4 linked regions of the Homo sapiens genome follow. The protein of the gene in region 1 interacts with the protein of each later gene in a pairwise test. Each region holds a gene or a part of one and is shown in the gene's direction. Other genes may lie near its edges.

Evidence for each region.
Region 2: the proteins of CRY2 (region 1) and CLOCK interact in a two-hybrid assay, tested with the Homo sapiens proteins (one study listed by BioGRID).
Region 3: the proteins of CRY2 (region 1) and TTC1 interact in a two-hybrid assay, tested with the Homo sapiens proteins (one study listed by BioGRID).
Region 4: the proteins of CRY2 (region 1) and PPP2R1B interact in a two-hybrid assay, tested with the Homo sapiens proteins (one study listed by BioGRID).

What each region holds. Positions count from the first base shown.
Region 1 is NC_000011.10:45,867,479-45,872,517, forward strand, and holds part of CRY2 (cryptochrome-2), read left to right. Parts: intron 1-133; coding exon 134-274; intron 275-2,027; coding exon 2,028-2,339; intron 2,340-2,574; coding exon 2,575-2,726; intron 2,727-2,851; coding exon 2,852-3,054; intron 3,055-3,363; coding exon 3,364-3,456; intron 3,457-4,613; coding exon 4,614-4,753; 3' UTR 4,754-4,755; intron 4,756-5,039. UniProt on the Homo sapiens protein: Transcriptional repressor which forms a core component of the circadian clock.
Region 2 is NC_000004.12:55,535,900-55,540,938, reverse strand, and holds part of CLOCK (circadian locomoter output cycles protein kaput), read left to right. Parts: intron 1-4,700; exon of another isoform or gene 4,701-4,763; intron 4,764-5,039. UniProt on the Homo sapiens protein: Transcriptional activator which forms a core component of the circadian clock.
Region 3 is NC_000005.10:160,063,062-160,067,053, forward strand, and holds the end of TTC1 (tetratricopeptide repeat protein 1), read left to right. Parts: intron 1-480; exon of another isoform or gene 481-595; coding exon of another isoform or gene 596-612; intron 613-1,870; coding exon 1,871-2,004; 3' UTR 2,005-2,482; downstream 2,483-3,992.
Region 4 is NC_000011.10:111,744,880-111,749,918, reverse strand, and holds part of PPP2R1B (serine/threonine-protein phosphatase 2A 65 kDa regulatory subunit A beta isoform), read left to right. Parts: intron 1-1,904; coding exon 1,905-1,965; intron 1,966-5,039. UniProt on the Homo sapiens protein: The PR65 subunit of protein phosphatase 2A serves as a scaffolding molecule to coordinate the assembly of the catalytic subunit and a variable regulatory B subunit.

The sequences.
Region 1 (5,039 bases):
AAGCACAGTGTTCCATGGCTCCATGGCTGGCTGTTCTGTGACCGTAGGCAGATTCCTTAACCACCCAATGCCTCCATTTTTTCCTCTGTTACATCCAAGCCTTTCCTTTTGCCACCTTCTCTTTCTGCTGTAGGCCTGGGTTGCCAACTATGAGAGACCCCGAATGAACGCCAACTCCCTCCTGGCCAGCCCCACAGGCCTCAGCCCCTACCTGCGCTTTGGTTGTCTCTCCTGCCGCCTCTTCTACTACCGCCTGTGGGACCTGTATAAAAAGGTAAGGGGGACATACCTGCCCACATTGCACCTAAGGCCTGCAGCCAGGCCTTTTGGGCTTGTCAGTCACCCTAAAAAAGGCACTGGTGGGTGGGGGTTGGGCTATGGCCCCTGGAAGGGCCTAAGTGTGTGCAGATAGTCCGGAGGAGGAGAGAAGACTCAATATCCAAGAGGGCAGAGCCAAGCACAGAGTGAACTGCCCACCAGAATGAAGCCCAGACCATCATGTAGAGCAGAAGGACAGGCAGAAAAGCAGGCCTCAGGTGTGACCCTAGAGGTGGCATATCCTCTGGCAGCTGGTGGACAGGGGCGAGGTCCCCAGGGTGAGAGGCATGGAGAGGGTGAGGCTGGAGCCAGTCTGAAGTGGAAGAGCATAGCTGCCCGCTCTGGAGCTGTGTCCACAGCATTCAAAAGGGGAGTCCAGGAACAGCAGTTGCCCATCAGTGATGGAGGGAGTGGTGTGGAGGGGCTGCACACAGGGCTGTGCTATACAGACAAGAAGCAAATAAGCCTGTGTTAACTGTCCCCAGAAGGAGAGAGGGCAACACAGTCAGCATTCAGAGGGATCACCTCATCTTGTGCCTATGTTTTTTGTTTCTGTTGTTTATTTAAGAGACAAAGTCTAGCTGTGTTACCCAGGCTAGAGTGTAGTGTGGCCTGATCACAGCTCACTGAAACCTCAGACTCCTGGGCTCAAGCAATCCCTCTGCCTCAGCCTCTCAAGTAGAGCTAATTTTTTACATTCTTTGTAGAGATAGGGTCTTGCTATGTTGCCCAGGCTGGTCTCGAACTCCTGGGCACAAGCAATTGTCCTGCCTTGGCCTCCCACAGTGCTGGGATTACAGCCGTGAGCCACCATGCCTAGCCGTTGTGTCTACATTTGTTTTTTTGTTTGTTTTTGAGACAGGATCTCATTCTGTCACCCAGGCTGGAGTACAGTGGTATGATCACAGCTCACTGCAGCCACAACCTTTCAGGCTCAGGTGATCCTCCTATCTCAGCCTCCCCAGCAGTTGGGACTATAGGTGCATGCCACCACACCTGGCTAATTTTTTGTATTTTTTTGTAGAAACTGGGTTTTTCCATGTTGCCCAGGCTGATCTCAAACTCCTGGGCTCAGGCCATCCACCCACCTCAGCCTCTCAAAGTGACAGATGCTAGCCACCACACCTGGCTGTATCTAGGTTTTTAAATGTTATCTCCTCATCCTTGCCATTATTGAGATTTTGTGGCATGGGATAGCTTTGCCAGTTTGGTGAGTAATCTTGTGACTTTAGGGAAGTCATTATTTGCTTGGAGGTCTGATTTCTTAATTACCTTATGGCCCCAGATCCAGGCTGTGTGTATAATTTATTCAACCAAAATCTAGACTGAGCATTTTTCATGTGTGCTGATAGGAAAATTCCTTTTGACTTTCTAGAAGGTGGAGCCAAACAGGGAACTCTTGAGGACAAGGAACATGACCAGTCTTGGGAAGTTTGAATCCTAGTGCAGAGTCCTGTGGTGAGGCCCCTTCCCACTGCCTGGCCCTCTGTAGCTTTCTTCTTGCTCAGAGCAGTGGCACAGTGCAGGCAGGGCCTGGGTGTTTCACATGCAGGCATGCTGTGCCACTTCTAGGGGATAGTCCCTCCACATCTGGCAGCTGAGCCACTAGGTCTTTGGAGGGCCCAGATTCCTTTGTAGAAGAGACCTGAGAGGCACCATGCTAAGAGCTGGGCGAGTGTTTGTATCCATGTGCCACCCCTACCTCTCAGGTGAAGCGGAACAGCACACCTCCCCTCTCCCTATTTGGGCAACTCCTATGGCGAGAGTTCTTCTACACGGCAGCTACCAACAACCCCAGGTTTGACCGCATGGAGGGGAACCCCATCTGCATCCAGATCCCCTGGGACCGCAATCCTGAGGCCCTGGCCAAGTGGGCTGAGGGCAAGACAGGCTTCCCTTGGATTGATGCCATCATGACCCAACTGAGGCAGGAGGGCTGGATCCACCACCTGGCCCGGCATGCCGTGGCCTGCTTCCTGACCCGCGGGGACCTCTGGGTCAGCTGGGAGAGCGGGGTCCGGGTGAGTGCTCTCTCAACGAAAAGCTGGCCTGTACCCTCTGGTCAGGCCCGTCAAAGGGCAGCCCCCTTCTGGGCTGAGGGATGAGGTGGGATTTCTGGGTCCAGGAGATCCCCTCCAGATCCTCTGTGGCTTGCCTTCAATGGAAGGGTTTTGGCTCCTGGGGGCACTGTGGTGACTTGGGAAAAAACATGGCTGCATGTCCCCAAGGAGGCTGATCATCCCCTCCCCTATCTAGGTATTTGATGAGCTGCTCCTGGATGCAGATTTCAGCGTGAACGCAGGCAGCTGGATGTGGCTGTCCTGCAGTGCTTTCTTCCAGCAGTTCTTCCACTGCTACTGCCCTGTGGGCTTTGGCCGTCGCACGGACCCCAGTGGGGACTACATCAGGTGAGGATACAGACCAGGCTCTCTGGCCTCTGACCACTGTGGCCTCCTACTAGGATGGGATACCCTGGGCCTTTTGAAGGAGGGTCTGGGTATGCTGATGGGTCATCTGGTGTATCTTATTTCAGGCGATACCTGCCCAAATTGAAAGCGTTCCCCTCTCGATACATCTATGAGCCCTGGAATGCCCCAGAGTCAATTCAGAAGGCAGCCAAGTGCATCATTGGTGTGGACTACCCACGGCCCATCGTCAACCATGCCGAGACCAGCCGGCTTAACATTGAACGAATGAAGCAGATTTACCAGCAGCTTTCGCGCTACCGGGGACTCTGTAAGGAGACAAACACCTAGCTCACTGAAGGGAAGGACAGCACCTACAGGCTCAGGGGGCCAGATGGGGATGTCCAGATACTTGCAAAGGGAGACTGAGTGCTGTCTTTCAGGTTGACACCTTCGCTGGGTATGGGACACTGCAGGCTGGGATGAACTGGGCCTTCCTGAGTAGTTGTGGGGCTGTGGGAGGAAATGGAACCTCAGTGTCTTGCTCCTACCCTCCCCACCCCCACTTGCTTCATCCTGCCCTGTAGCCCTCTGCAATCCTGCGAGACGGCACTCTGATTACTCCTCGCCTCTCTCCCAGGTCTACTGGCATCTGTCCCTTCCTGTGTGGAAGACCTCAGTCACCCTGTGGCAGAGCCCAGCTCGAGCCAGGCTGGCAGCATGAGCAGTGCAGGTGAGCAGCAGCAACCAACCTCCTGTGGCCTCCTGTGGCCTGTGCCACCACTTCAGTCATTCAGGACTGAGGCCAGAAGGAGGCCTTGCCCAGTGGAGCTTATATTCCACCTGGGGCAGTCAGATAGTAAAGAAACCAAGTTGGATCATTTCAGATAACAAGTGCTTTGGAGGAAAAGAAAGTTGAGTATCTTGACAGAGGGACTGGGAAAGAAGGATTTCTTCTGTGTCACTTGAGATTGGAGCAGTCAGGGAACACCTCTGTTAAGCAGAGACCCACGTCATGAGCAGGAGCCAGCCCTGCCACACACTGAGAAAATAACATTCCAGACAAAGGGAGTAGCAAGAAAAAGCTCACAAACAGTACCGAGCTTAGTCCATTCAAGGAACCGAAGGGAGGTCAGTGTAGCGGCATGTCCCAGTGAGGAGCTGGAATGAGATGAGGACAAGATACAGCATGAGCAGCATGTGGCAGGCCTGATGTCCGAGACGAGGACTAGGATTCAGCCTTCAGTGCACTGAAGGATGGTCAGTAGGGCAGGGCATGATTGGACTTAGGTCTGAAAAAGCTCCCTGGCCTGCTGGGTGGAGATTGGACAGTGTAGGCCGGAGCGGGCACAGGGAGGCCAGAGAGGAGGCAGCACAGACAGGGTGGTGGCCGCAAGGAGAAAGACTGGACAGATTCGCTGCATTCGGAGCCTCTTCCCTTCTTGGGGATGAAGATGAGTAACATGAGATGGGAAGAACACGGGTTTTTCTAGTTGGCCCAGCTAGGCTGCCTCCATGGGCAGCATGACTCCTCCACAGGGGCCCTGCTCTTTGCTGCTTGGGGAGGCTGATTCAGGGTTGCAGAGGGAATGCCTCACCTTCAAAGCAGGACAGCAGGCAGGCCAAATCAGTCTCTGGCCACAGCCCATGCCATTTGGGGCCCAAAAGCTGGTCCTGCTACCAGCAGGCCTGCTTGGTCATGTCCTCCTTGGACATTTCCAGGCAAAGTCACTGCTGAAAGCAAGGCCGAGGGGCAGGTCTGAGGAGCAGCATGCTGGCATTCCATTGATAAGTGTGCTCCCTGTCCCCTAAAGAGCTGCTGCTGCATAGTGTGGGATCATTTTGGCTGCATGCACAGTCTGTGTGACCCTTTGACACGCTTCCCTACAGGCCCAAGACCACTACCCAGTGGCCCAGCATCCCCCAAACGCAAGCTGGAAGCAGCCGAGGAACCACCTGGTGAAGAACTCAGCAAACGGGCCCGGGTGGCAGAGTTGCCAACCCCAGAGCTGCCGAGCAAGGATGCCTGAGAGTGAGTGACAGCAGCCTAGATTCAACCTCAGGAAGGAAGTTGGGAGTGGGGGGGCCTACTGCCCTGCCAGCTGCAGGTTGAAACATAGCAAACTAGATGAAAATCTGGTGGGACCACCCAATGCTCAGCCACTAAAGCTTTACCATTTTACAGTGGCAGCCGGGTTCCATCCTGGCTTAGGGAATGAGTACTTTCTGGTTGATATCTGTGTGACCTTTACCATTGGGCCGGCTATGGTGGCTCATGTATGTAATCCCAGCACTTTGGGAGGCCAAGGTGGGAGG
Region 2 (5,039 bases), on another chromosome or scaffold:
TTCATTTTTTACATTAATAATGACGACGATTAAGTTTCTTTTTCAAAGAGGTCACATTCAGGTACTTAACATTTTTAATTCTCATCCCAAATAGTGGAAAATTGAATGTGAGGGCTATCTGGCTGTGACATGTTACCCCATTGATCCCCAGGGTTGATTCAGCTCATCTGGCTGGCTCGGCAGGTGTCCCCTTCCTCCCTCTCCACTCCACGTGCGTCCCTCCTGAAGCTGAAGCTGCGTGCTTGGTTGAAGAGGACAACCATCCCAAATAGAGGAGGACTGGTCTTGGGTCAAGGGTATACGAGCAGCTGCGCTCCCCTGCTAGAACCTTCGAGCAAGCTCTCAAGGTCCAAATAGTGGAAAATGAAAGTACAGGTTGATTCATGTTGGCAGGTTTTGGTATCAAAAAAAAATTAAAAAGCACACATGGGGGATATACCAATAAAGGTTAGACCATATGCCTAGCTAAGAACTTATCATTTGTATTAAAATATGGTTTAATGTAAAGAGTTGCCTTTCTCCATTCCCCCCTCCCCTCCCCTCCCCTCCTCTCCCCTCCTCTCTTGCCCCCAATTAAAAAATAGCACATCCCTAATGTGGGAAACAGTAAGAAAGCATAGATTACATTTTAGGCAGGGCACAGTGGCTCACACCTGTAATCCCAGCACTTTCGGAGGCTGAGGTGGGTGGATCACTTGAGGTCAGGAGTTTGAGACCAGCCTGGCCAACATGGTGAAACCCTGTCTCTACTAAAAGTACAAAAATTAGCCGGGCATGGTGGCGGGTGCCTGTAATCCCAGCTACTTGGGAGGCTAAGGCAGGAGAATTGCTTGAACCCAGGAGGCAGAGGTTGCAGTGAGCAGAGATCACGCCATTGCACTCCAGCCTGTGCGACAGATCAAGACTCAGTCTCAAAAAAAAAAAAAAAAAATTAATATCATTGGAGATCATACCACCGAAAGTGCTGTTGTTAATCTTCTTGATTATCTATCTGCTTCCTGCATTTTGTTGAGCCATTACATAAGTATATGTATACTTATATGATGTTATGGGCTCCTAATGTAGTCCACTGCAGTGCAAGCTGTTCAGTTAACAGTGAATCATCAACATATTTTCATGTCAGTATTTTTCTGCTATGTGATTATTTTTAGTAGGTATGTAACATTCTCATCTCTGTGTAATAATTTACTTATCAATCTTCTGTTGGACATTGAAGTTGTTTTCAATTTTTAGGATAATAATACTGTCACTTCCCTATATCATGCATTTTGATACTGGCCTACCTAGTATCAGTGATTTTTTCTATTTTTGTTTCTCTGAAAATATCTCAATTTCACCTTTTTTTTTTTTTTTTTTTTTTTTTTTTGAGACAAGGTCTCACTCTGGCACCCAGGCTGGAGTGTAGTGGTGTGAACATGGCTCACTGTAGCCTCAACCTTTTGGGCTCAGGCAATCCTTCACCTCAGCCTCCTCAGTAGCTGGAACCACAGGCACATGCCACCATGCCCAGCTAATTTTTAAATTTTTTGTATAGGCGGGGTCTTGTCATGTTGCCCCGGCTGTTCTTGAACTCCTGGGCTTAAGAGATCCCCCCACCTTGGCCTCCCAAAGTGCTGGGTATAGGTGTGAGCCACCATGCACGGCAGTTTCACCTTTTTTGAAGTGGTTTTTGGTGTTTTTTTTGTTGTTGTTGTTGTTGTTTTTTTGAGACAGTCTCGTTCTGTTGCTTAGGCTGGAGTGCAGTGGCGTGATCTGAGCTCACTGCAGCTTCTGCCTCCTGGGTTCAAATGATTCTCATGCCACAGCCTCCTGAGTAGCTGGGATTACAGGCATGTGCTACCATACCCAGCTAAATTTTTTGTATTTTTAGTAGAGATAGGATTTTGCCATGTTGGCCACGCAGGTCTCCAAACTCATGGCCTCAAGTGATCTGCCCACCTTGGCCTCCCAAAGTGCTAGGATTACAGGCATGAGCCACTGTGGCTGGCCTGAAGTGTGTTTTCACTGGCTATTAAGTTCTAAGTTGGTAGTTATTTTCTTTCAACACATTAAGAATGTTTGGTTGCTTTCTGTCTTCCTTTCTTTTTGTTGAAGTCAGCTACCAGTCTTATTGAAGGCAATGTATTAGCTATATTCTTGCTGAGGATAATGTGTCTTTTATTTTTCCTTGGCTAATTTTAAGACTCTCTGTGTTACTTTTAAAGCACTTTGATGTGTTCAGATGTGGTTTTCTTTGTTGCTTTATGTTTATAGAGTTTTTTGAATCTAGCTGGATGCCTTTTAGTTTTGGAAAGTTCTGTTACCACCTTTTCATATATTCTGCCCCTTTTTTCTTTTTGGATCCTAATTACACATATATTAAACTTAATTATCATGTTCCACATGTTGAAAAAAATTTTTTTCTCTGTTTGGATATTTTCTATCGACCTGCCTTCCAGTATGCCAAAACTATCTTCTCTTTTTGTCAAAATAATCTTTTGTGTTCTTAATTTTACATTGTGGTTTTGAGTTCTAGAGTATTCCTTTGATGTTGTTTTATAGACTTGTAATAGACTCCAGTTCTCTTGAACATACTAATTATAGTTATTTAAATGCTTGTCTTTTCCAATATCGGCATCATCTATTGGTCTGTTTATCTTGTTTGTTTTTCTGTTGGTTATTGGTCATATGGTTGTATTGTTCCGTCTCTTCACATGCCTGATAAGTTTTCGAAGGAACTTACCCATTTCATTTAACTTGTTGCATTTATTGCAAAAAGTTGCTTATAATACTCTATTATTGTTCTTTTAATATCTGTAGAAAGTGTAATGAGTCTAATATCTGTATAACCTGTAGAGATTTAGTATCATTCCGAATACTAGTAATTTGTCTCTGCTCCCCTTTTCCCTGATTAGTCTGGCTAGAAGTTTATTAATTTTATTGAGGTTCTTAAAAAGTTAACTTTTAGTTTAATTGACTGCCTGTGGTTTTCTTATTTCCGCCCTGGTCTTTATTTCCTTTCCTCAGCTTACTTTTGGGTTTAATTTGTTTTCTTTTTCTGGTTTCTTAAGATAGAAGCTGAGGTCATTGATTTGTGACCTTTTTTCTTTTCTAATGTAAGCATGCTATAAACTTCCCTTTAATTGTTTATAATTTATTTATTTGTTTTTTGAGACAAGGTCTCACTACTGCTCAGGCAGTACAGTATCGTGATCATGGCCCATTGCAGCCTTGACCTCTCAGGCTCAAGTGATCCTCCCACCTCAGCCTCCTGAGTAGCTGGGACTGCAGGCATGTGCCACCATGCCTGGCTAATTTTTTATTTTTATTTTTATTTTTTTGAGACTGGGTCTCACTCCGTTGCCTAGGCTTTAGTGCAGTGGCCCAATCACGGGGTCACCACAGTGTCGACGTCTCAGGCTCAAGAGATCCTCGCACCAGAGTCTATTAAGTGCTGGGATTACAGGCGCGTGCCATCATGCCTGGCTAATTTTTGTATTTTTTGTAGAGATAGGGTTTCACTATGTTGCCCAGGCTGGTCGTCAACTCCTGAGCTCAGGCAATCCACTTGCCTCAGCCTCCCAAAGTGCTAGGATTACAGGTGTAAGCCACCACACCTGGCCAGAGTTTATTACAATTTTTTCTGAAGACAAGGATGTCACTGTGTTGCCCATGTTGGTCTTGAACTCAGTTCAAGCAATCCTCTTTCCTTGGCCTCCTGGAGTGCTGGGATACAGATGTGAGCCTCCACTCCTGGCCGTTTCCAGTTTTTGATATGTTTCCATTTTCATTCCATTCAGAGTACTTTATAATTTCTTTCCTGATGTCTTACTGGGTCTATAGTTTATTTATAAGTGTGTTATATAGTTTTCAAATATTTGAGGATTTTCCAGAGATCATTGTTATTTTTAATTTAATTCCATTGTAATGAGATAATTTTAAATTTATTCGGATTTATTTTATGGCCTAGAATATATTCTATCATTGTAAGTGTTCTTCATGTGCAGTTGAAAAGAATGTGTGTTTTGTTGTTAGGTGGAGTGTTTTACAAATGTCAGTTAGGTCAAGTCTGTTGATTGTTTTGTTTATGTCTCATAATTTTTTATTGAATGCCAGGCATTGTGTAGTAAAAAACTTAAGTAAGCATTACCAGGTAATGGTACATTTTGCCGGGTTGGGAGAGGGGTGGGGGAAGGGGAAGTTCATTTTCTATGCAGATAGGCTAGGGAGCTGTATTAGTCTGTTTGCATTACTATAAAAGAATACGTGAGACTGGGTAATTTATAAAGAAAAGAAGCTTAATTGGCTTACGGTTCTCCAAAGTGTATAGGAAGCATGGTGCCGGCATCTGCTTATAGTGAGGCTTAGTAAGTTTCTAGTCATGGCTGAAAGTGAAGGGAGAGCAGGTGCATGACAAGGCAAGAGTGGGAGCAAGAGAGCAAGGTGGGGCAGGTCCCAGACTTTTCAACAACCAGATCTTGTGTGAACTCACTTATTACCGAGGAGATGGTACTAAACCATTCATGAGGGATCTGCCCCCATGATCCAGTTGCCTCCTACTGGGCCCAACTTCCAACATTGGGAATTACATTTACATTTCATCATGAGATTTGGAGGGGACAAGCATCCAACCCATATCAGGAGCCCATCATCTTAAATTATGTGGAGGCTGGGTTGCTATTTTAATAGTTTGCTATCCTTATTTTTCCTTGTTTTTTCAGATGTTGTCTTCTAAGGCATTCATTTCAAAGCCTATTGGTCTTGTCCCTTTAGCAATGCCAAAGGTAGGAAATTTCACTTTGCTTTTCAAAGTTTTTTAGTTGACTTTGTAGCCTTTTACCCTGCACGGTTTTAAAATTCAGCAAGTATGCTGAGGGGAGATACCACCTTTAAGCTTGAGGTCCTTGCGTGAAACTTTTTAGGAGAATTAGTCTCCTAGTGTTGTTATTCCAGCCCTGTGTGAACACCAAAAGCTGTCCTGGCTTCTGTGTTCCTCAGCAACAATATTTTACACAGGTCAGGCCTCAATTTTCAGCCTCTAACCCAAGCAATAATTAGGA
Region 3 (3,992 bases), on another chromosome or scaffold:
CTGCCTGGAGAACAGCCATCCCAGGTTCTGGGAGCTTTCTCAATTTACTGTTTTATCCAAAGATGGGTTGGCCTTTCTCTGGACATAGTGAGCTTCCTTGGGCTAGTTCTTAAGCCTGAGACTAAAAGTTCTCACCATGAGTTATTAGGGAGGCCTGTAAAATGTAAAGGCCATGCGTTTTTTTTGCTCTGTTACCCAGGCTGGAGTGCAATGGTATGATCATGGCTCACTGCAGCCCTGAACTCCTTGGGCTCAAGCAATCCTCCTAACTCAGCCTCTGCATAGCTGTGACAACAGGTGTGTGCCACCACACCTAGCTAATTTTTAAATTTTTGTAGATACAGGGTCTCCCTATGTTGCCCAGGCTGGTCTCAAACTCCTAGGCTCACATGATCCTCCTGCCTCAGCCTCCCAAAGTGCTGGGATTACAGGTGTGAGCCACTGCACCCAGCCAAGGCCATGCACCTTTAAGTTCTTTACCTGGGCTTTACTCTAAGATGGGAGGCCTCAGAGTGAGAAAAGCTGCTAAGAAGTGGGAAGGAGCCTGTACCTCTGGTGATTAGGGATTTCTCTTTTCGTCCACCCCCATTCTCACCTCCACTGGAAGTAGACCTGTAAGAAAAATTAAAGCAGTTTAGAAAGGGTTGAAACTGTTTATTCACCCATCCCTGCCAAAATTTTCTGGAACATTCCTAGTTTCAGATGTTCCTTATATCTTAAAACAGCATAAGAACTGTTTTTTGTTTTTAAAAAAAAAATTTGTAGAGATAGAGTCTCACTGCGTTGCTCGGGCTGGTCTTGAACTCCTGGGCTCAAACCCTCCTCTTGCCTCAGCTTCCCAAAGTGCTGGGAATACAGGCATGAGTCACCATGCTTGGCAAGAACCGCTGGCTATAGACCATGACTTTTTTTTTTTTTTTTTTTTGAGACGGAGTCTCACTCTGTCACCCAGGCTGGAGTGCAGTGGCGCAATCTCAGCTCACTGCAACCTCTGCCTCCCAGGTGCAAACGATTGTCCTGCCTCAGCCTCCCTAGTAGCTGGGACTGTAGGCGTATGCCACCACCCTCAGCTGATTTTTGTATTTTTTGTAGAGATAGGGTTTCATCATGTTGGCCAGGCTGGTCTCGAACTCCTGACCTCAGGTGATCCACCCATCTCGGCCTCCCAAAGTGCTGGGATTACAGGCGTGAGCCACCACGCCCATCCTATATACCTCACCCAAGTCGTGTAAATAAAGCCTGAAACTTGGGAAGAGGAGGCTGGACTATTGAGGTCTTATTGAGGTTGCTGTGCAAATCAAGATGATCCCATTTCTAAGAAATGGCTAGTCTGGTATAGAAGCTAAGGATTTGTTTAGGAAAGCAGGAAGCTCTTGAATATGAATCCAAGCTCAGTGGAAATGGGCTGAGTTGAATTACATTTAGCAGGTGGCTGCTGCCGTTCTAGAGAGAAGAGACTTGGAGGGACCTCTGCCCTCACTACCAGGCAGACCTGGCTTGGCAGGGTGCCTTGAGCCTCACTGGAACAGCAGTTGGTTTTCCCAGAACTCACCCCAGAAGCCTGTGTCCTCTGATAGCACTGGCCAGTTAGGACAGGAGGCTTTGATTCCCAGAGAGAGCCAGCAGGACTCCACTCTCATCTATGCAAGCACAGGCTGAGGGTGGATGGCATTAAAGTGACTGCACTGCTGAGTGGGGAATAGGGGCTGGGAACTCTCCTGGAAGCTTTCATCATATTAAAAGTAGGCATTTCTTTAACTGCAAAGAGATACTTTTATATTTTGTACTCAGTGGTAAGGCAAGATTAATTGGTACCTTCCTGCTTCTGTTCATTCCTGTATTCATTTGAGTTTTTGCTTTTACATTACAGGTAAATTAAAAGATCTTGGGAACTTGGTTCTCCGACCTTTTGGGCTCTCCACGGAAAATTTCCAGATCAAACAGGATTCCTCTACCGGCTCGTACTCCATCAATTTCGTTCAAAATCCAAATAATAACAGATAACAAAGATAACAAAAGCTTTACAAGCTGACTTGGAATTGTGTGCTGCTTGCTGTTAGCTAGGGGAAAGGCCCTGCCAATGTTTAACTTTTAAAAGCATCTTATCTAAAAGAAAGGCTATCCAGTAGAGCCCAGTGCTCCCTTGTCCCTCTTTTATGATCAGGGTGAAATGTACTTCCTGATGTAATGAACCTAATTTGATTTCCATTTTAAGGTGGTGTCTGTGCAGCTGGTGTCCCCGATTCTGGCTGTCCTATGTCCAGGAAGAAGCCCATTTGTTGAGGCTGACCTTCCTGATCATACACACACACAGCCCAGCAAAAGCCTCTCCTGAACCAAACAAACCTGTTGGTTGGGAGACTGCCCAGACATGATTGATGACGGGTTCCCGCCTGCTGTCCCCTCCCTGATCACACAGCTAACGAGGCTGCCTCCAGCATTTCCTGATTTCCTCTGTGGTAATAAAAGCTTTCTGTGCTTAGGTCTGGGTTAGGTTGTGAATTTTGTCACGTAACGACAACTAAGGCAGAAGCCTTCTCTGGCTTTGGGAGCAGTGTTGGTTTCAAGCAGGGTTACTGATTCCAGATTCCACAGATCTGCCCAAAGTTTTTGTTGCCTTGAAGATTTATCTTGAAGAGTTGACCATTCTACCATGTACTAGAATTCAGAAAGTCCACCTTACAAGCTATCTTGGGCCCCTCCAGGTTTGTATAGATAATTATAAATCTGTGTTTGACCAAATGTTAATATTTTTAACTTAAAATAGCTTCATTGAGGAATGGTAGTATATGAACCCCAGAACAAAACCATATTCTTTTAAACTACATGAACCTAGAGGTGTCAAAGATAGAATTTTTTTGTGCTCATCAGTTGATGCTAGTGAGAAGCTTGCAGTTGCTCTGGTTTGAGTCTCAAAAGCTTGACATGCAAGTTTCATCTTGGATGTAAATTACACATATAATTCTGTAAGTGACATGCAGTAGTCAGTCATACTCCCAGTGTTAAGGACTATGTGGTTCTTCTCATCTGTTCCTAAAAGCTTTTTATCTTTTTTCTTCTTTTGGTCAAAGTGAACCTCAGAAGAAACTGTTAAATCTGGCATCCAATTTTCCTGAAAATGTGTGTGTGAAAAATCACACAAGTTGTATGGAAACCGTGTGGAATGCTGGATGGTCTGGTAGTCAGTGTTCGGTGCTTCCTGTGCAGCCAGCATTATGCTAGAAAGTGGTTCTCATTTTTTTTTTTTTTTTTTTGAGGGGGGTCTCGCTCTGTCACCCAGGCTGGAGTGCAGTGGCGCAATCTTGGCTCACTACAACCTCTGCCTCCCAGGCTCAAGCAATTCTCCTGCCTCAGCCTCCAGAGTAGCTGGGATTACAGGCATGCACCACCACACCTGGCTAATTTTTTGTATTTTTAGTAGAGACAGAGTTTCACCATGTTAGCCAGGCTGGTCTTGAACTCCCGGCCTCAAGATGATCCACCCACCTTGGCTTTGGATTACAGGCGTGAGCCACCGTGCCCAAACTTTTATTTCAGCAGCCCTTCATAGTCTGGAAAAAAAAATTTTAAGAGCATTTCCATTTATGTGCATTCTATCAATATTTAGTATATTAAAAATTAAGATAGAAAGTGTTAAAGTAATCCCTTTGAAAAATAACATGTTTCCTGTTACTATAAATACTTTTATGTCAGGCCAGGAACGATGGATGGTTTATACCTGTAATCACAGTACTTTGGGAGGCCAACGCAGGAGTATTGCTTGAGGCCAGAGATCCAGACCAGCCTGAGCAACATAGCAAGGTTCCATCTCTACAAAAAAAAGTTTAAAAAAAAAAATTAGCTAGGCGTAGCGGCTTCATGCTACTTGGGAGGCTGAGGCAGGAGGATTGATTGCTTGAGCCCAGGGGTTCAAGGCTGCAGTGAGCTATGATCCCACTGCTGCTCTTCATCCTGGGTGACAGCGAGACCTTGTCTCTAAAAAAAAGTTTTAC
Region 4 (5,039 bases), about 66 Mb from region 1:
ATTTTAGTACCATTTCTTTTAACCTCTGCTCCTTCTAGACCTGGAAAGTTTCCCAGGGTTGCTAGCTCTATAGAGAGCAGTGTGAAAGCAAGGCAGATGGTGTCTTTGGCTGACTTACACCTGTCTGGCAGGGGTGACATGCCTCAGTCATGAACATTTTGCTTTACAATTTTAACTTCTTGTTAGTATATATATTCTCCTTAATTTCTCTTCATATCTAAATATTTTTATATCAGATAGTCATTTTATAAAATTCTCTCAAGACTTTATGTATGACCTGGCTTGTGGACGATGTTAAGTAAGTGTAAAGTTAAACTACAAAAACCGGAAAATAGGCCAGGCGTAGTGGCTCACGCTTGTAATCCCAGCACTTTGGGAGGCCTAGGTGGGTGGATCACCTGAGGTCAGGAGTTTGAGCCCAGCCTGACCAACATGGTGAAACCCCATCTCTACTATACAAAAAATTTAGCCGGGTGTGGTGGTGGGTGCCTGTTACTTGGGAGGCTTCTTGGGAGGCTGAGGCAGGAGAATTGCTTGAACCCAGGAGGCGGAGGTTGTAGTGAGCTGACATTGCACCACTGTACTCCAGCCTGGGCGACAGAGAGAGATTCCGTCTCGACAACAACAACAACAACAACAACAAACTGGAAAATAAAAGTTAATTAAAACTGAAGGAAAATTCTCAACCTGAAATGAAAAAGAAATCTTGGCTGACGTAATCTAAGTGTATGCCAAAATTTGTTCATTATGATCTTTTAGTACAAAGCAATTTTGGGCCAGGTGCGGTGGCTCATGCCTGTAATCCCAGCACTTTGGGAGGCTGAGGCGGACGGATCATCTGAGTCAGGAGTTAAGAGACCAGCCTGGCCAACATGGTGAAACCCTGTCTCTACTAAAAATACAAAATTAGCTGGGCATGTGCTGCATATCTGTAATCCCAGCTACTTGAGAGGCTGAGGCAGGAGAATCACTTGAACCCGGGAGGTGGAGGTTGCAGTGAGCTGAGATTGTGCCACTGTACTCCAGCCTGGGCAATAGAGTGAGACTCCATCTCAAAAAAAAAAAGCTATTTTGTCTTATTCAATCACTATTTTCAAAGCACTGACACATTATATTACCTCTCTTTTTTTAAAATATAGAATCACCAGTCAGGAACTTCTTAGAGTTCAAAGAAGCAAGACTGTAAATGTGTAGACCCCAGAAGGGAGGCACTAGGAAAGTGTGTCACAGCATTCTCCATGTGGTGTGGAAGCCCCGGGGTTAGAGGACTGTGTAAATCTGCTCCCGGAGCCCATCCCCAGCCTGCACTGAAGTGGCCACCTGTTGACAGTCGGGAGGAACAGGGCTGGGAGAGCAAGCCATGCCTGGGCCATATGCCCTGTAGTCCTGGGCCTGCTTTATTCTCCCTCCAGGGCTTTCTCCTGTTGTCTCGAAAATACTCTCTTTAACTGGGGATATCTCTATGTCTTGAGGTCAGTTGCTTTATCCTTAAGGATTTGTCATAATAGTAACCAAAAAGGGAAGACGATTGAGAATTAGTAATATTACTGACAGGTGTTTTCCTGGGTAATTCATTTTTACAGGTAATCCAGATTTGCTTGGCAGACCATACACAGTGCATTCTTCCTGCTCTTTTGCAGTGTTGTGGCTGACTTCTGGCCACCCTGTTCTCTTTTACCTAGCAGGGCCTATGCCAGCTCACGTATGCTTTTTTTTTGTTTATGATTTCCGTCCAATAAATAGATTTATGGTTTGTTTGTAATTCCTGTGGTGTTTCTATCTCTTATTTGTTTATTTGGAAACAAGTTTTTTTAGCCTTCAGGTAACCTTGGTGTAATGTAAATAGACCATCTTTATTTCTGAATTTTGGCAATGTATGTTAATGGAATCTTCTGTATCTGTAGGGTGTGGAATTCTTTGATGAAAAGCTGAATTCTTTATGTATGGCTTGGCTCGTGGACCATGGTGAGTAGATAAAAACAGATTATTGAAAGCCCATATATCCATGATTTTCATACATTTCCTTTTAGAAAGGAATCTCAGTCTGACCAGATATTTTGCCTTAATATTGTAGGAATGAAGAAAGGCTCTAATTAAAGTTTAATCTTCTGAATATAAATTTGACGTTTCTACCAATTTTTTGTATCTTCGATTTTATTTTCTCCATTAAACAATTTATTTGCATTATTTTCTTACTCAATCTATTACATTATCTTCAGACCATCTCTTTTATATATCTACTTACTCCTCCCTTATCTGAAGATCCTCTTTTTGACCATCCTGTAATTGGTGTCTTCAGCAGCTATACACTAGGTTGTATGGAGATTGGAATCAGATGAAAGGCCTGGGTGGGAGAAATGGCTACTTGGCTTTTTGAGGTGACATAGAAGAGGAGATCTACAGTGAGACAGTAGAGGATTCTTAGGTGTGGGAAACACTAGCTTTGCCATAGGGAGAGAGAGGGCCTGGATTTCTGGTTTGGGTGAAAGGAAGGCTTACTGCTTGTACTCTCACTGCTGCTGCTACAGTGCTAGGAGAGGGTGAGCTCAGGGCAGGTCAGATAGGACAGCAGGAATGAGCAAGTGACTTCCTGGTGAGGCTTCAGGTAGAGGTATATGTGTGTATCCCCTTGTGTGCCAGGCAGCAGTGGGTGACAGATGTACCGTCTCTGCCAGATCCCAGGTCCAGACTTGACAGCTTCAGTGTTGTCTTAGACCTGTTTCGATGAGTGTGAGTGCCCCTATGGGGTCATGTGACATTGTCCTTGAGCTTTGTTTCCATGTTTTGGTGGATATAATAGATAACCTGAGTCAGTTCCACAGTATCTTTTATATACTTGATATATGTATTTAGTGTATCTCTTTGTTCATCTATGGGTGCTTATGCCTGGAAATTTGGGAGGAATGAGGATATTTGTGTCTGCTTATACGTGTGGGTGGTTTTGTTAAAGGCATGTTTGCATCATATGGAGGATCATATGGTTAAGAGTGTGAAGAGGAAGGATGTGAAAAAATATGTGAAAATGTATAAGGGCTTATATATGTGGGTATTTCCAGTGTTTTCAAACTGGATTGTAGACTTCTTTCTCTTTTTCTTCTCTAAAGTTATCTTATTGTGGCCTATTTATTTCTTTTTAAATAAAATTAAAATTTGGCAAATCATAGGAAAGAAATACCACTTTTAAAAAAAATGTTTATGTTATATCTGATAAATATTTGACGTTACTGGGAATGGTGCATCCTAGCAAATCATTCTGTGCTTTTTTAAATTTTATTTTACTTTAAGTTCTAGGATACATGCATAGAACATGCAAGTTTGTTATGTTACATAGATATACATGTGCCATGGTGGTTTGCCGCATCTATCAACCTGTCGTCTAGGTTTTAAGCCCCACATGCATTAGGTATTTGTTCTAATGCTCTCCCTCCCCTCGCCCCTCACCCCCTGATAGGCCTCAGTGTGTGATGTTCCCTTCCCTGTATTCATGTGTTCTGATTGTTCAACTCCCACTTATTAGTGAGAACATGTACTGTTTGGTTTTCTGTTCCCGCGTTAATTTGCTGAGAATGATGGCTTCTAGCTTCATCCATGTCCCTGCAAAGGACATGAACTCATTCCTTTTTTATGGCCGCATAGTATTCCGTGGTGTATATGTGCCACATTTTCTTTATCCAGTCTGTCATTGATGGGCATTTGGGTTGGCCTCAAGTCATTCTATGCTTTCTTTAAAAGTTGGCATTTTAGATTAAGATGGTGTTTTATTTTGAGGAATTTTTAAAGTTCTAATATTCCACAAAGAATTAAATTCCTGGCACCCTTTCTCTGTAAGATTGTCTTCTCTATGCAACTTGATTACTCCTTCCTCTTTTCGGATTTTCTCTTTCAGTTTGGGAGCAGGAGAAACCCTTGTTTATTTCACTGCAGCAGCATGCTGAAGTGGGGACTGCAAGAGTTCCATGAACCAATGAAATAACAGCTCTGAAATTGTTTTGTACTTAATCACAGGAGCTTTTTTGCTTTTGCATTTCAGATAAGTGTTATATAATGATCACTGGATCAGTTAGAGTTTTTGAAACTTTTCCCCTAGTTAGGTAACTACTAAAAGAACATTGTGAAAATTCCAGAGAAGTATAAGGAAGAAAGTATCACTCACCTATATTCCTGTGGTTGAGTAGACAGTTTTGATCAGAGGGAGGAATGTAGAAGGGAAATTTATTTATTTATTATAGGAGAAAGGAGAAGGTATCAGTTATTGAGCATAGATAGACATTCAAAGAAACCTTGCAGGTCAGCCAGGCCTTGAGAGGAGATGGGGAGAGAGAAAGAGACAGAAATAGACAAAAGAAAACAGGCAGAACTCTGGAATGGTTTGCATTCTTCTGAAAACAGTCAGAGGAACCAAGAACATAGTAGGCATCTGGCCAAGTAGAGTTCAGTGCAGTTAAGGTCTTGGTCAAGGCTATGCATGTGTGTTCCCCAGTCTCTGGTTTTTCTGGCAGTAGAGATCCCTTCCTATGGTAATGGCATTATGATAAAAATCTAAAGCGTGTTAAAAAAAATAGTAATTTGCTGAGCATGGTGGCTCATGCCTGTAATCCCAGCACTTTGGGAGGCTGAGGCGGGTGGATGACTTGAAGTTAGGAGTTCGAGACCAGCCTGGCCAACATGGTGAAACCCTGTCTCTACTAAAAACACAAAAATTAGCTGGATGTGTTGGCGGGCGCCTGTAATCCCAGCTACTCAGGAGGCTGAGGCAGGAGAGTTGCTTGAACCCAGGAGGCGGAGGTTGCAGTGAGCCGAGATCTCGCCACTGCACTCCAGCCTGAGAGACAGAGTGAGGCTCTGTCTCAAAAAAAAAAAAAAAAAAAAAATTAGAGGAGAAGACACAAATACTCTAGCTAGCTCCTCTTTAGTGGGGAGGACAGGGAAGGGTTTGGGCCAAAGACAAAGACTATGGATATGAAGGGAAGGAATCTGTATTACAGTAAAACAGTTGACTTGAGTTTGCTCCTTAGTGCATCTGAGTCTTACCGAAAGGT